Linked DNA regions of Homo sapiens: region 2 is linked to region 1. The links come from fine-mapping of genetic effects on gene expression. A gene starts in region 1. The other region holds a variant in brackets. All regions are shown on one strand. Distances are between the middles of the regions. Region 1 holds the start of WDR17 (WD repeat domain 17). Region 2 overlaps WDR17 (WD repeat domain 17).

Region 1 (8,350 bases):
CCAAATCTGAAATAGGTAAGAGTAGATGAGAATTAGCCTAAGCTGAAAAATGGAACCTAAATGTCTCATATGAGGCTAGGCAGGAGCCAAGATCATCACTTTGAAACTATTTGAAGAAAAAAAATTCATAAATTGAAATATGGTACTGAGAGTCATACAGAATTCAGCACAAAGGGACAAAGAGATTAAAACTATGAAAAGACAAGTGATAAATACATTTATGGGTAGAATTAACAACTCTCATATAGGTTCAATTAAAATTTTAGAAGTGAAAAATAGAATAAATATTCAAATAATGATGGAGAATTTTTACAACTGAAGATCTGGACTGATATTTGCAATGGGTATATCTAACACATAAACACCCTGAATATTTTAAAACCTAAAAAATCAATATGGAAAAGTTAAATATAGAAAAAAAAGGTAGTGAACAATTTATAAACTTAAAAAGATGTGTCATTCCAACAATTTCAGAAAGCACAAATTTAAATCATGTAGAGATATTACTATACATTCATTAGATTGAAAAAAGTATAAAACTCTGATGTTGATGATATGGAGCAGGAAAAGAGTTTCACTACTTTTTGCAATAGAGAAAAGTTCACACACTTATATGTTCATCAATAGGTAAATAATGATGATGCTATATTTTATATTCCTAATATAAGATATATATCATATAAATATATATACTTATATGTACCAATATTATAAAATTTTAAAATAAATGACAGAAAATAAAGCAAATTTAGAAAGTATATTTATCTGTTAGATTAGCTACATCTGGTTAAAATGAGAGAGTAATCAAATGACAAGAGAAAAAAGGAGAACTTCACTACCTATAATTTTTTTTTTTTTTTTTTTTGAGACAGAGTTTTGCTCTGTCGCCCAGAGTGGAGTGCAGTGGCACAATCTCGGCTCCCTGCAACCTCCACCTCCCGGGTTCAAATGATTCTCCTGCATCAGCTTCCCGAGTAGCTGGGACTACAGGAGCTCACCACCACGCCCAGCTAATTTTTTTGTATTTTTAGTAGAGACGGGGTTTCACCATGTTGGCCAGGATGGTCTCAATCTCTTGACCTCGTGATCAGCCCACCTTGGCCTCCCAAATTGCTGGGATTACAGGTGTGAGCCACCACATCCAGCCAATTTTTTTTTTCAAAGACAACGCAAATATGACAAAAACAAAATTTATTAACTATAGATATTTATTGCATTATTGTATGTACTTTCCTGTTTAAATATTTTACAATTTAAAAACAATTTTAAGAATTCTCTCAATATTGATCCTCTGGGCACAGTGGCTCATGCCTGTAATCCCAACACTTTCAGAGGCTGAGGCGGGCAGATTGCTTGAGGTCAGGATTTCGAGACCAGCCTGGCCAGCATAGTGAAACCCTGTCTCTACTAAAAATACAAAAAATTAGCTGGACGTGGTGGCACATGCCTGTAATCCTAGCTACTCAGGAGGCTAAGACAGGAGAATCACTTGAACCCTGGAGGCAGAGGTTGTGATGAGCCAAGAACATGCCACTACACTCTAGCCTGGGCAACAGAGTGACACTCTGTCTCAAAATAATAATAATAATAATAAATAAAGAATTCTATCAATATTGATCTAGAGAAAAAATATCAAATTTTCTGCAATTATTAAAAAAATAAAAGAATTCTATCAATATTGATCTAGAGAAAAAATCTCAATTTTCTGCAAAAATTATTGGTTAATTTAAGCCATTTTTATACCTCAAGAAGACCAAAGAGTAATAACCTCTAATATATTTCTTAATAGAAATAATAATATTTTGATATATTTAAATATATCTACCTTAATCATCAATATTGTGGCAATAGATTATATATCTATTTAAAACTATTTCAATTTTTAAGTGTTTTTACATAAAGTACATTTTTAAGTATTTAGTTCACTATTTACTGCACATTAGTTTAAGTTTTTTTTTCTGTTATACTTGTTTCTGCTCTCTTACCATTTTTACATTAAAAAAAAGTGTGAGAGGGCTTTTCAATTAGGTGAATCTAAAGTCTTTTTGGCTAAATTTTTCTAAAATTTTAGTTTAAGAAGTTTTTTTCTTGTTGATTTCTCATCCAGAATACATATTAAAAGGGCATTTGCCACATTAAATTGCATTGAACTTCCTTTTCAAAGCCATTGTACTCATAGAACATGTCTATCTATCCTTGAAGATGAATTTGACTGGAGTCATTTGGCTTCCCTAATCGCTCTGCTTTTAAATTTAATCATGAAGAACTCCGGGTACTCAGTGCTAAGAACTAATGATTGCCCTGAAAATGTCAGTCAGCCTAAGTGACTGACAATTTTTTCTTTGTGAGGTGAGTATATGACATTAAATACTGGTTGAATAAAAGAATAAAAAATCAGAGTAAAGAGATCTTTGTTTTATAAATTAGGTATATTGTTCCTCTAGATCTAATCTAACTATAGTTGTGATTATTTAAATCTGTTCAAAAGGAATGAACTAAATTCTGGTAAAGGAATAAGAGTCCTGAACTGGGAGACCGGGATCACTCTATCAAAATCTGCTGCTAATATGACTGGAGATTTAAACACCTTCATCTTTAAATTATGAGTGCACAACTAGATAATTTCAGTTGTCTCATTCAATTTTATGTTTCTTTCTTTTTCCTTTTTCTTTTTTTTCTTTTTTTTTTTTGAGACGGAGTCTCACTCTTGTCACCCAGGCTAAAGTGCAGTGGCGCAATCTCCGCCTTCTGGGTTCACGCCATTCTCCTGCCTCAGCCTGCCGAGGACCTGGAAGTACAGGTGCCCGCCACCACGCCCAGCTCATCTTGTATTTTAGTAGGAACGGGGTTTCACCACCACGCTGCCGTCAAACTCCTGACTTCAGGTGATCCGCCCACCTCGGCCTTCCAAAGTGCTGGGATTACGGGAGTGAAACACCGCGCCCGGCCGGTTTTTTGTTTCTTAACTGGAGAGCTGGAGCCATTATGAGCAAAATAAACATAAAAGATTTTTTCCGTCCAACCGATGGACTAAGCTAGACGTTGTATCTTCAGCATTTTCTCTTCATGTACACCATTGACTATTCAGCACTATACCTAGCAAATATCAGTCATAAATGAAAACTATAGTCTGTTTTCACAGAAATGTTTCTTGTGATTTTCCCTCTTCGCTATTCTTATTTTCATTGTCTTAACTCAGGTCATCAGCATCTTTTCCCATGAACTACTGAATTTTTCTCCTAACAGACCATGTTCTTCATCTTCCTGCATCCCATGTATCTCCAATGTTTCCAAGGTGTCTTTCTTGATGAAAAAGCACTGATTTTATAAACTTCAATCTCTTCCTTTGGTTTAGAGGTTAAAGCCTAACCCATATATAGAATTCTGCATCTTTCCCAATCAAGTTTTCTTATTTTTCTAGTACAGTCTTTTGCCAATTTCCATCTTCCTTCTTATCTTTGGATTCACATCCCCAACTCCGGAGAAGGCAAAAACATCAAATTTATTTACATCAATCGTTTATTTTTTCCCACTTTATGCTTTTGGCAATGCTGCTCCTGCTGCATAGTATACACTTTCCCCTTTTTATCAGGTGAAATTCTACCTATTTATAAGTCCCTGCTCAAATACTAATCATATTGAAAGCTTCTCTGAATACCTTGGAAGAAAAAGTTCTGCCTCCCTCATCTGAAATCATCTCATAGCACTTTTATGTAACCCTATTTTAGTACTTAACACATTGAGTTATATTTAGTTATTGCCCTTATACTTTCTCTGGTAGATTATGTGCTAATTTCTTTCTTTCTTTATCCATCTATCCATCAAGAATTAATTGAAGACCTGCTATTCATCAGATACTTTGTTAGAATATAGGGGACGGAGTTGTAAGAACTGATTTTAGCTTTAACAAGTTTATTCTTTATATGGAAATCCAACATTTAAGTTAATTTTAATTTACAATATAGAATATTGAGTGCTGTGGTAGGTACTCGTCTCTGCAGAGAATATTTTGGAAAAAAGGAGCATTAAAATCTACTGCATAGGAAGGTAAGAATTAGGCCCAGGGACTTTCTCTGGTTGAGGTCGACCATTCATTTATTAACTATTTAGAGTGGAGTATAATTAATTCTCGATAGATGTCATTAAATACACTTTGTTTCGAGTACGTCGAGGCTTATTCTCTCTAGTGTGTTGGATAAAGGCCACAGGTAGTGAAGATATTTCAGAGATGTGAAGAATCCAGTAGGAATGACAACATCCAGCACTTCCATTCAACCAGATCCCACAGGGAAAATGTCAGTTTTGTGAAGGCAGATACATTAACCACATACAACTCGATTAATATAAACAAATAATCTTATCCATTGAGCTCTCCCACAGACCTTCTTGGGCCCAATCAGACAATAATGAAGTGCAGGCGAGACAGCATTCTGCACTCACATTCCAGGCACTGGTTCAAGTCCCTCCTCCAGGTCCCTCAAGAAAGAGACAGGATGACTGACTTACTGTATATTTGACTCATTTTCCTAGAAAGTGCAGACTCGCTATAAAATGTGTTAGGTGGTGAGAACGCTGATGGTTCACCGTTTTCCTCCACTTTCAGCCTCAGTGCAAACCCTCTGCCCAAAGCCTCGCTCCAGTACGGAGGAGCTGCGCCTTCAACACACTTTCTCTGTTGCCAGGTAACCACTTCTCCCTCAGCCTAGTCTCCAAGGGTCACGAGCCACTTCCGCCTCCCCCTCTCGGGCGCTCCAATCAGCGACCTGTGTAGCTGTCACGTGGGCCTCTGGGGCAGACCCTGGAGATCGGGCTCGCGGCGCCTTCCATCGTGGCTCCGCGCTGGGGCTTGCGGAGCACGCTTCCCGCCCCTCGGAGCCCGCGGGCCCGGCCGCCCCGCCCCCGGGCGCCCTGAGCGAGCAGGCGGGGAGGGCGGGGAGGGTCCGCGCGTTGGTGGTGCTCGCCTCGCAGCTGCGCCCGCCGGCTTCAGCACCTTCCGCTGTCCGCCGCTGCAGCCGCCTCCTCCTCCAGGTAAGAAGCCGGTGGGGCCGCAGAGATACCAAGGCAAGCTCAGGATTGATGTGGGTGATGCTGGAACTGTCGCGGCGTCATGCGAGAGGGGCTCTGACCTCCCTGTGATCGCGGACCAGGGTAATGTACGTCCTGCAGGGCTTTGCACACCATGGTGCCTGATGAGATAATCAACTGAGTTTTAGAGCCACACACCTGATTCTTACAAGGCACAGCAAGCAGCGAATATTTATGTATCTAAACTACCATTGCAGTGTAAACTGTGGACATTTCGAGGGACATTGTTTTATTTTTATGGCTATTAAGTATATGTCTAGAGCCTAGGTTGCTGTTCTCATCCCTCCGCCGGCCAGACACTTCTGTATAGATCATTTACCCCTTTGAAGATGGACTTATTAGTAGGGTTGTACTAAGAAAGGTTTGAGTAAAAAGGAAATGCGTTCCAGAAAAAAGACGGTATTGGATATAAGGCAGGTATACTATTTATTAAGTAGATCGTAAAATAGAATCTTTGCTGTCCTCCCCTCTCCAAAATCAGACTTGTTTTGCTTGCAAAGATTGAAAGGAACAAACAATTTAAGGAGACTTTTTAAATATATTAATTAAAAGCAATTGATTCGAATGAAAAGTAATGAAAAGTCCGACCATGCATCAAAAATAAATTATTTTGCATATTAATATATACATATATACTATATATATTTAACAAGGGTTTGAAGAGAGATACTACATTTCTGAATCTTTCATAAATACCCTTTAGAGAAAACTATCAAAAAAACACAAGTTCGTTGTAAAAGGATACGAAACGGCCAAAGCCCAACAATGTGAGATTATAGTTGCCGTTCTTAGCACTCTAATAACATTTCTGCGTTGTAAAAATTAGAAAATAAATGACAATGAATTTATGAGAATTTATAAATTTGAACTCCACAAGAGTTTAAGCATTAATTTATTTGTAGATTTATGCCTTATCATTACCCTGCTTGCCAGGAGCTGATGCTGGGCGGGTGGTGAAACAAACTCTGTGGAGAAAGCACTCTTACATCCTTTTGAGATTCTGCCTCACTGGCCTAAGTGTTCAAGAAAATGGATATAGTTATATCTAACTGTTTTGAAGGCAGACGTCTGAGATAGGTGGTCTGAGAACCTTTCCCCTCCTATCATCTAAAATTAAATATAGTTATTAAGTGCTTTTGAAAAGTTGTCAATTCGTTAATATTTTGGGAAACATCCTTTACTGGATTGTTTGGAGATTAATGTTACAAATGGTAGCTTTAGAGTTCCTGGGAAGTTTTAAAGCAATGACTTATTTCAAAGGGCATATACGGAAAGTAAAGCTCTTGAGTTCTGCAAACGTAATTATGTAAAAATAACTAGTTGAATGTTATTGTTTACATTGTTCTGACTTTCTCTTGTGTTGATATTAATAGAACTGCTTAAAAAACTGTGGACATCTGAAGAAGACGTTAAATATGCTTACTTGAAAGTTTTAACATTCTTTATTCTTCTTATTTCTAATGATAAATAGTGGTGTTCTAAATATTTTTAAGTTACCCATTAGTCACATAAATAATTCCATAGATTAGAAAGCCATAAATTAATTTAGGCCAGAAAAACAATGCTCCCAGTAGAGGGGAGACTAGGGCTAGATTGCTTTTGTTGTTGCTGTTTTCTACAGACTCTATCTTGTATCCTTTAGTCTGGGAAAGGAGGGACAGGGCCAGTGGCAGTTTTTTAATTACTTGGAGAAGTTTAAGAACAGGTTTCTGTTTGTTTGTTTTATGGTTTTACCCTGATGGATACTAGAAGTCCAACATGAATGATTAGGTTGTCACTATTAATGAAATGTGTAAATTCTCCAGAGTACCTGATTTTGTTGCCTAAATACTTTAATGACGACTAAAATGTAATTCTGACAGTTTTGAAGGATTCACATTTTCATCCTATATTCCAGAATTTCTTTGAAATCTAACATATGCAAGAAAGGTAACGCTTTATCAGATTACTGAATTGTAATACTGAATACTTAAGAGTTTACCCAGCTATTCATGATAATTATGTATATGGAAGCATCATTGCTACTTTTGACCACTGCTGAATTATCTCATTTTACATTTTGTATACCTCTTCCATTGAACAGATGGAAATATTAAAGTGAAGTCATGTATCTTCCAGTACGTCTTCAGGAACAGAGATTTCATCGAAATTATATTAATTTATAGAAATCATATGAGGATAGGCTGCGTGCGGTGGCTCATACCTGTAATCCCGGCACTTTGGGAGGCTGAGGCAGGCGGATCACCTGAGGTGAGGAGTTTGAGACCAGTCTGGCCAACATGGTGAAACCCCATGTGTACTAATAATACAAAAATTAGCTGGGCGTGGTGGTGCACGTCTGTAATCCCAGCTACTTGGGAGGCTGAGGCATGAGAATCTCTTGAACCCAGGAGGCCCGGAGGTTGCAGTGAGCCAAGATTGCGCCACTGCATGCCAGCCTGGGCGACAGAGCAAGACAACGTCAAAAAAATTAAAGAAAAGAAAAAGAAAAAAAGGAGGATATTGGAAGGGATTTTTTATTAATTCATGCTCCTTTTCTTTTGTATCAGAAACATATGAAACTTAAGATTTGGTTGGTACTTTTTGATACCCAAGACTGTGCTTTATCCTGTTAAAATAGTATCGTGATTATTCTTTCATTGTTGATAAAACTATTCCTTGAAATTTGTGAGCAAGAAATTAGATACGGATACCTGAAGAGAATTTTAGAAATTCTCCCAAAGAATCTACTCTATAAGGAAACAAAACCTAGAGAAAAACATTTTTCTTATTTGAGTTTACTTAAAATGTTCACGAAGGACTTGCAACTTTGGTAATAAAAATTGGTAGAAATAATATAAAATGATCAGCTTTGTATAGTAAAAGAAAAATTCCCATCACGATTAATTAGAAAGATTTGAAAAGTTTCCATGCTTAAAGCATGGGCTGTCACATTAGAAGGCAGAGTTCAGGTTGTTTTCATCTGATTTCAGTGACTAGACAGGTATAATTTCAGTGACTAGTCAAACATTTCAAATAGGCTAGATTTTGTAAGAAAAAAAAAGAACTTGATATTGGAGCCACAGCTGGCACCTGCCTTCCAGATGTCACATTATCAGCTACTTGAGGAAAATAATTTATATATATATATTGATAAAAGTCTTACTTTTTATTATGTTAAATGTACTTACAAAGTATTGTTCAGTAAGCTGTCTTATAAAATTCTGTAATTCTACATTCTAATTTAAAAAATGTACTGTAGAAATAGACAGTAATATAAATCTAT
Region 2 (8,350 bases), 66 kb after region 1:
AAATGTTAGGGGAAAAAAATTCCACAAAATTTCAAGAAGCAAAACCTGACTTTGCAGTGTGACAAGTACTATGTTGAACCCATGTGAATAATGTGATGTGTAGGCTTTGGATTAGGTATAATAAGTGATGTGGCTTGACCGTGTCTCCACCAAAAATCTCATCTTGAATTGTCATTGCCATGATCCCCAACTGTCAAGGCCGGACCCAGCTGGAGCTAATGGGATCATGGGGGCCACAGTTTACCCTATGCTGTTCTCATGATAATGAGTGAGATCTCACGAGATCTGATGGTTTTATAAGTGTCTGGCATTTCTCCTGTTTGCCCTCACTCCATTCCACTGCCCTGTGAAGAAGGTGCCTGCTTCTACTTTGCCTTCCACCATGATTGTAAGTTTCCTGAGGCCTCCTCAGCCATGCAGAACTGTGAGTCAATTAAACCTCTTTTCTTTATAAATTACCCAGTCTTGGGTATGTCTTTATAGCAGTGTGAGAACAGACTAATACAATAATCTGGAAATGATTTAAAGTATACGAGAAAATATGCATAGGTTATATGCAAATAATATGCCACTTTATGTAAGAGACTTGAGCATTCCTGGATTTTGTTATCCGTGGGAGGTCCTGGAACCAATCTCCCATGGATAACAAGGGGCAACTGCACATGAAAGTAGATGGATTCTTAATTTATATATCTTAATTGCCTTTAACTTTTCAGGATATAATTAATAATAGGCATGGAATTTTTTTTTTTTTTTTGAGACAGTGTCTCGCTCTGTCACCCAGGCTGGAGTGCAGTGGTGCAATCTTGGCTCACTGCAACCTCCACCTCTGGGTTCAAGTGATTATCCTGCCTCAGCCTCCCGAGTAGCTGAGATTGCACTGTGGTGCATGCCACCATACCTGGCTAATTTTTCTATTTTTAGTAGAGACGGTGTTTTACCATGTTGGCCAGGCTGGTCTCAAACTCCTAACCTCAAGTGATCCACCTGCCTCAGCCTCCCAAAGTGCTGGGAATACAGGCATGAGCCATCATGCCCAGCCCAATAGGCACGGAAATTGTTTTGTATTTTATTACTATTACTGAAATATGCTTCACATATAAAATTCACCATTTTTAAAGCATGCAGTTCAGTGGTTTCTAGTATATTCACAAAGCTCTACAATTATTACCACTATCTAATTAACATATCATTATTCCCCCAACAAACCCTGTACTCATCAGCAGTTACTCTCCATTACTGCCTCCCTACAGTCCCGGATACACACATGTGCAAGCATAAACTGCTAATTACTTTCTATCTCTGTGGACTTGCTTCTTCTGGACATTTCATATAAATGGAACCATTCAGTCTGTTGCCTTTTGTTTCTGGCTTCTTTCACTTAACATAGAGTTTTCAAGGTTCATCCATGTTATAGCATGTATCAGTACTTCATTCCTTTTTATGGCTGAATAATATGTCATTATATGGATATGGCAGGTTTTGTTTATCCATTCCTCTGTTGATAGACAGACGCATTGTTTCCACCTTTTTGCTGATATAGATAATGCTGCTATGAACATGTATGTACAGGTTTTGGTATGGACCTTTGCTTATAATTCTGTTGAGTATTTCTCAAGGAGAGGAATTGCTAAGTCATATGGTAATTCTATATTTAATCGTTTGTGTAACTGCCAGACTTTTCTCCATAGCAGTAATTAAGATGGGAATTTTGGAAGAAAGGAGACTGTAATTGGTCTTCAGGTATATTTGACAATCCTTAATGGCTAAAAGTGGACAGTGGAGCAGTTTATAAACATTTCAAAGGTGGAAAGATTGATTATTTAAGGTTAGAAATGGAGAGTTTTCTGTGGCTGGCCTTTCCTAGAACAAGCATATGTCAATAGGGTCTTTTTTTGTGGTTGAGTTATTATAATGGTCTTTATTGGAGGAAGCTGCCAAAACAGGCCGTTTCTAAACCTATAAAAGGTTTTGGAGCAAAAAAATAGTAAAACATGCCAAAAATTTAAAGGTTAAATAGTATTTCGGTTGTTAGGTTGTATTACTGTATGGTATTGTTGTTAAAAGGATGTCAGTAATTAGTCCTAAAATATTTCCAGTTGAAATTTTGTTATACTTTTATGTCTAGGCATTTTAGTTTCATACAAAACTTGTTAAAATGTGCTTTTTCCCTGATCTGACTAGATTCTCAAGTGGGTGTTTTACGCATTTGGAATGTTTCAAGAACAACACCTATTGATAATCTTAAATTAAAGAAAACAGGATTTCACTGCTTACATGTACTTAATTCTCCTCCAAGAAAAAAGTGTAAGTAAAAATGTTATCAAAATTTTAATTTTTAAAAAATATTGTGTTTTCTATCAAATAAAATGGTATAGTGAGATATCAAATACTATATGCCACTGAAAAGCAATTTTTAAAAAAGGCTTTGACAATATATGTGCTCAAGGATCCATCAAAGCTACACAAGATCTACTGTTACTAAATTGAAAATATTTAGAGTCAAGTTACATTTTTTAATGCTACTAAGTAAGAATATTTAGATAATTTCAGATTATCTACATGGAAAAGATGAATCAATGATACTGATGAAAATAAGTTAGAAATATTAAGAGTGATAGGATTAAATAAGATTATCTGAACTGGGAGAATTTATGTTTTAAACATGGCTCATTTAAAATCTGTACAGTTTACAACGAAGTTAAAACAACCTAAATATTCAAATTATAGGATCTAGAATACATATTACATATTTGAATACCAGTTGTCACTAAGTTAGTAGTTAGTATTATGGATCTTCTGTGTCTTCTTTATTTCTGTGTATATTTTCTGTATCATTCGTTGCCTCTGTAATTAAGAAAAAATAAAATACACTTAATTTATAAAAAGGAAAAATCTGGAAATTTGGGGGAGGTTTAGAATTAGAATTTTTTTCAAATATAAGGGAAAAATAATAGACTTCCAGTTAAGTCTATCATGATTACTCTGCATGGTTGGTAGTGTTCCCATTCTGTATAACACATCATTAAAAGCATGGGGAAGGGATTTCAGTGATGAAAAGTTTAGAGTGATTGTTTCCTTCTTACTCTATCTTTATAATATACCAAGTAATTAGCAATGGCTATTCAAAGTAATGTTATTTTGGTGTCTAATTGGTAGGCAATGGCAAGTAGTAGAAAATCTCTATATTTGAACCTATACCCCTTGTACAAAATTGTGAAGTCCCTAATAAATGTAGAACCTGGAAACTGGAGGGTCTAGAAATATTAGGACTAGAGAAGTAATATGCTGGATGCTGGCTTACTGTTTAGGGATGTTGGAATTTTTTTGTCATTGTTAGTTCCTTTATTTGTTTAGAAGCTTTGAACTGCCATGTCATGGAATGTCTGAAATACCAGATTCTTTTCTTTCATTTTTTTTCTTACTATAAAAGTAGCCCATGTCCATTAGACAAAGTCAGAAAATACAAAGAATAACATACCAGTCTTGTCATTTTCGAGCAATTCCTTTCAGATTACCTCTTCTTTGACTTCTAGGTTTTCCCTTCAATTTAATATAACAGAAAGTATGGAAAAAGAACAATTGTGAAAATGAAATTTTAAAAAATAAACGTACTCGCTGAATTCTGAAAAGCATGATTTACAAATAGATTGGTGCATAAAAGTTGTCTAACCCACCTATAATGTCAATTAAAGTGTTAGAAAAACCAATGATGGATTATATTAATTTTTAAACAAAATATCAACGAAATTTAGTGAACCAAATTCATTGCTACCAAATGCCTCTTTTGTCATTTGTAGTTCATTCTAGTTTGGACTTTCTGTAATTCTCAGATTCTGAGAAATGAATATTATCCATAATAAATGAACTAAGAAAAATTGTATTTTAATATTAAAAATACTGAGAAATGGCCGGGCGCGGTGGCTCATGCCTGTAATCCCAGCACTTCGGGAGGCCAAGGCGGGCAGATCACAAGGTCAGGAGATCGAGACCATCCTGGCTAACACAGTGAAACCCTGTCTCTACTAAAAATACAAAAAAATTAGCCGGGCGTGGTGGCAGGAGCCTGTAGTCCCAGCTACTGGGGAGGCTGAGGCAAGAGAATGGCGTCAACCTGGGAGGCGGAGCTTGCAGTGAGCCGAGATCATGCCACAGCACTCCAGCCCGGGCAACAGAGCGAGACTCCGTCTCAAAAAAAAAAAAAAAAAAACTGAGAAATATTTTCCATATTCCAGTGTACAATTAATAATCGATTGGTCTTATAATTTAC[T/C]GTAGTGTCATTATTTTGGATTATGTTTGCAAGAAAATATTTGGATTCACATTCTAAGGAAGAGCTTTTTGGAAGAAGACAAAATATGGGATAAATAATATATAAAAATAATCACAGTGATATTTATGTAATTGAAAGTAGGAGAAATCCAAGTCTATAAACAGTAAAAAGAAAAAACAAACAAAAAAACATCTAGGAAGAAAGAAAATTGAGATGCCAGTGCAGGTCAGATAGTGTTGTGATTCTTAATTTATGATAAATTAAAATGAATTATGCATAATCTCAAAAAAATTATTTTCACTGGCTTGGAAATTGTTGGCAGAGAGTTATTTATATTAAAAGAAAAAATTATATGCATATATGTTTGTGTGTGTGGAAGGAGGGAATAAGCTATTATGTCAGTATTTTGAAGGAAGTTTATAATTCAGAAATAATCATGCTGAGCTTTAATTTATAGGGTGATAAGAAACCACATATTCACAACAGATTGTGATTCCTCAACACACTAATTTTCATCTATTTGCTCCATCTGTACTTTAAAATAATATCCAATTTTGTGCTTATATTACATTTTTTGGCAATCCCAAAGAACTGCTTATGTGGGAGAATATATGATCATTGCCTAAATGGTTTACTGGTACAGATTCTGGATTTTTTTTTTAATGAAGAATCTTTCTAAATTAAGCTCTGTGGTTTCATTCCAATAGGATTTTTTTTCTTCTATTTTTAGTTTCAGTCCAATCTCCAACCAAAAATCATTATACATCCTCAACAAGCGAAGCAGTTCCACCCCCAACTTTAACACAGAATCAAGCATTTTCTCTTCCTCCTGGTCATGCAGTGTGTTGTTTCTTGGATGGTGGAGTTGGACTTTATGATATGGGAGCTAAGAAGTGGGATTTTCTTAGAGACTTGGTATGTATGTAGTCATTCCTTTATTATACATAATAGTTTTTTGTGTAAACCCATGATCTTTACTTTTACCTGTCTGAATATTATTTGAAATTATTTTTGTAAGTAATAATATACTAGAAATTTATTGTAGCTGGTTGAAACATTTTAGAAAATGCATAGAATGATGATAAAACTACTAAAATAACTTTTAACCACTATACTTCAAAAGTCTTAATGTCTACTTATATTTTATGTACAATGGAAAATTACATAGCTGTAGTATATTTTGGAAGCAAAATGAGAATAGAATGTCCTTTCAAGAGAAAGGACAAGTTGATCTCTGCCAGTTGCTCAAAGCCTTATTGTTCCCATTTGTTAATTGAGTAACGTTGGATTATGTTTTCTAAGATTTGTTTCTATTGTTGAATCGCTATGATACTTAAGTGATTCTATGAATTCTGTTTTTATGATAATTAAGCCCCTATATAAGATAGAATACAACCTCCTTGAGATCCCACATTTTTGTCTGGTTGTGTTCTGTGGTACAGCCCCACTACCTAATATAGTATCTGCCACATAGCAAGACTATTAAATTTTGTTGAATGAATGAATGAAGACATGCAATAATACATACTGCGTTGTAATTAATATTTGTCAAAAACAATCCTCTTTAATTTTCCCTACTTTAGAGTTTCTAAAAATGTCCCTGTCTTTTTCCACTGGTTTGAATTAGACTAATCTGGACATTTAAGAAACCTTTAAATGCTAATTATTTTCCTTTGATCTTAGAAAAAGAATCTAGAGATGTAATTGTCCTTGTAACTGAAGGGAGAGAAAGAATCAATAATATTGTATCTTTTCAAGACTGCTCGTTTAATTTTATCCTCAAATGAAAAAATGATTTATAGCAAAAATATTTTTAAAATAATCTGTAGCTTAATTATTTTTGAATTTTCCTTTTGTAGATATTCATTTGAAGATGATTTAATTTTCTTTTCACTTTAACTTTTCTTTTTATATAAACTCTTTCCTAGTGTGGTAAACTTTTTGTATACTTCAAATTACCATTTGTTTTCAAACAAATTTATGAAAGGGAAGGGAGAAAAACATAAGAATACACTTAAATCTATAAAAAAAAACTAGTAAGAACAGCAGGATATACTGTTTCCTACACTTGTTTCACTAGACCAACCAGAATGACTTCTGTAGAATTTTGCTGATATGTCCTGAGTTGCTTTACATCAGCACTGGGTTGAGTCACTAAATCTGGCAGTGGGTCTTCAACAAGACAATTCTTCATTTCTGAATAAAACTGTGCTTAGCTCACCAATTCCTAAAATCAGTTCAGGAGACAATTACATTGCAGCAACTCAAAAGAAAAAAGAAAAAATATACTAACATGAATCACACATGCCCCAAGTGCCATATATACCATTCGAAGAAAAAAAAAACAATTTTTTATTTTTATTTTTTTTTTTTTACCACTTCACTATTTAATTACAAGCAAAGTCCTCTGTGGTTCTCCTTGGTCTCCTCTCTCTAAAAAAAAAAAAAAAAGAAGAAGAAGAAGAAAAGAGAAAGGAAAATCACTTCCACCATTAACTCCTAATCTAAAAAGTAAATTCTGCCTTAAATAAAAATCTGGGTCTTTCTACTAAGCTAAAAAAAAAAAAAAAAAAAAAAAAAAGTTGTGTTAGTAGAAGAGAAGTCATGCAATCTAAATTCAATAAATTTTCTATGACACTTCGTATTAAAGTATGTTTTACTTAAAATCTATGTTAATTTATAATTCTAATAAATGCCGAATACTAAATACTAAAAGCCGCTTGATTATAAATTATTTCAGTTGCTTTTCTCACTTTAAAATGTCTGCCAGTCAGAGGGAGGCAGTCATTTTTTCCTTATAGTTTCAATTTTCTTAACACAGATCCAAATTTGAAATTTCTCGAAGTGTTACCAGAAGAAACAACTCTGAACTGCTGTATGTATGAAGCATCTGCAAAGATTCCAGATTACATAGGATGAGAAAAATATTATTAATATTTTTTAAAATCTTACATAATTTTAAAAATCTTATTAATAAACATTCTAAAAGGTGTACTTCCATATGAATATTTGCTCCATTAAAATTAAGAAAAATGCCACAAAATTTTCCTCGTCTTACTCACCTTCCTTTTGGTAAGAAGAAAACACAGAAGAAACATTTACAATTTTGTTCTTGCTATGTGAATTTTCTTATTTCAAAAAATAAAATTTTAAGGCATAGCAGTGAAATAACATTTAAAACTGCATGTAAGTCCCTGCCTGGATTATGTTCCTAACATTGGAAATGACCACATAGGACAGCTTCAGCCAGGTGAACCAGTGGTTCTAACAACATTTTTACTTCTTGCTAACCCTTGAGATTTTTCTTTCCTTTACCTCCACCTAAAGGAGAAACTTTACGAGTACTTTTGTAGTTTCCTAAGGGTTGTGATTTCTGGTATTAATGGAAGTACACAGAGTTTTAAGGACTTTCTTCTCTACCCTTATTCTATTTGTTGAGGACTAGAAAACCCTGTCTTTGTACTTCAACTCCGTCTCTAGATCCCAAATGTTAGTTTCGTTTGCTTAAAGTAGAAATTTCGATTCCCATTCCCCAGCATTTAGAATAGTTGTAATTCCGGCTATTTATGTTGGACTCTTAACGGATTTTCCCAAAGGCCCACAGTAGTTAAGCACTACTTTACTGGTGTATGTTTACATGTATCTGCATATACCACTTTATAGTCTTGTGGGTGTTTGGGATCCAAATCATTGTGTAATGGGAACAAGTATTCAGGTTCCAAAGAATAGACTTGCTAGAAAATTTTGGAACAAGGCTCATTAACAATTGGGGTTATGCCTGATTCTTCTGTTTCTGCCAAAATTATGAGGTGCTTTTGGAGTACGTTATTAGTATAAAAAAGGAATATTTGCATTAAATGACTTTTAGTTTGAGTTTCATCTTGGTCTTCTATTGTAGTGCCAGATGACATATGGTAACTATTAAGAGTTAATTGCTTTATAGATTTCTAGCATAGTATCCTGTAAGTTTAATAAAAATAGAAAATATCTTTTGCACTGAATTGAAACTGAAAAGTGAGACTTCTGAACATCTTTGAGTTTAGTTGCTGATTTGAGGAACCGTGGTTGACTAAAATCTAG

The links.
Region 2: its variant is fine-mapped to the expression of WDR17 in nasal epithelium (TOPMed, PIP above 0.99). The same link has a PIP of 0.9 or more in aorta, coronary artery and tibial artery.

Annotation. Positions count from the first base shown.
Region 1 is chr4:176,061,052-176,069,401 of GRCh38, forward strand. WDR17 (WD repeat domain 17) reads left to right here and starts at 4,790. Exons shown (of 29, transcript NM_181265.4): 1 at 4,790-5,028. RefSeq lists a silencer at 4,666-5,045.
Region 2 is chr4:176,126,554-176,134,903 of GRCh38, forward strand. It overlaps WDR17 (WD repeat domain 17), which reads left to right. Exons shown (of 29, transcript NM_181265.4): 6 at 2,185-2,307; 7 at 5,001-5,185. Among named protein-coding and RNA genes, the nearest start is that of SPATA4, 65 kb to the right of the region's middle. The variant T/C (reference allele first, on the strand shown) is at 4,271.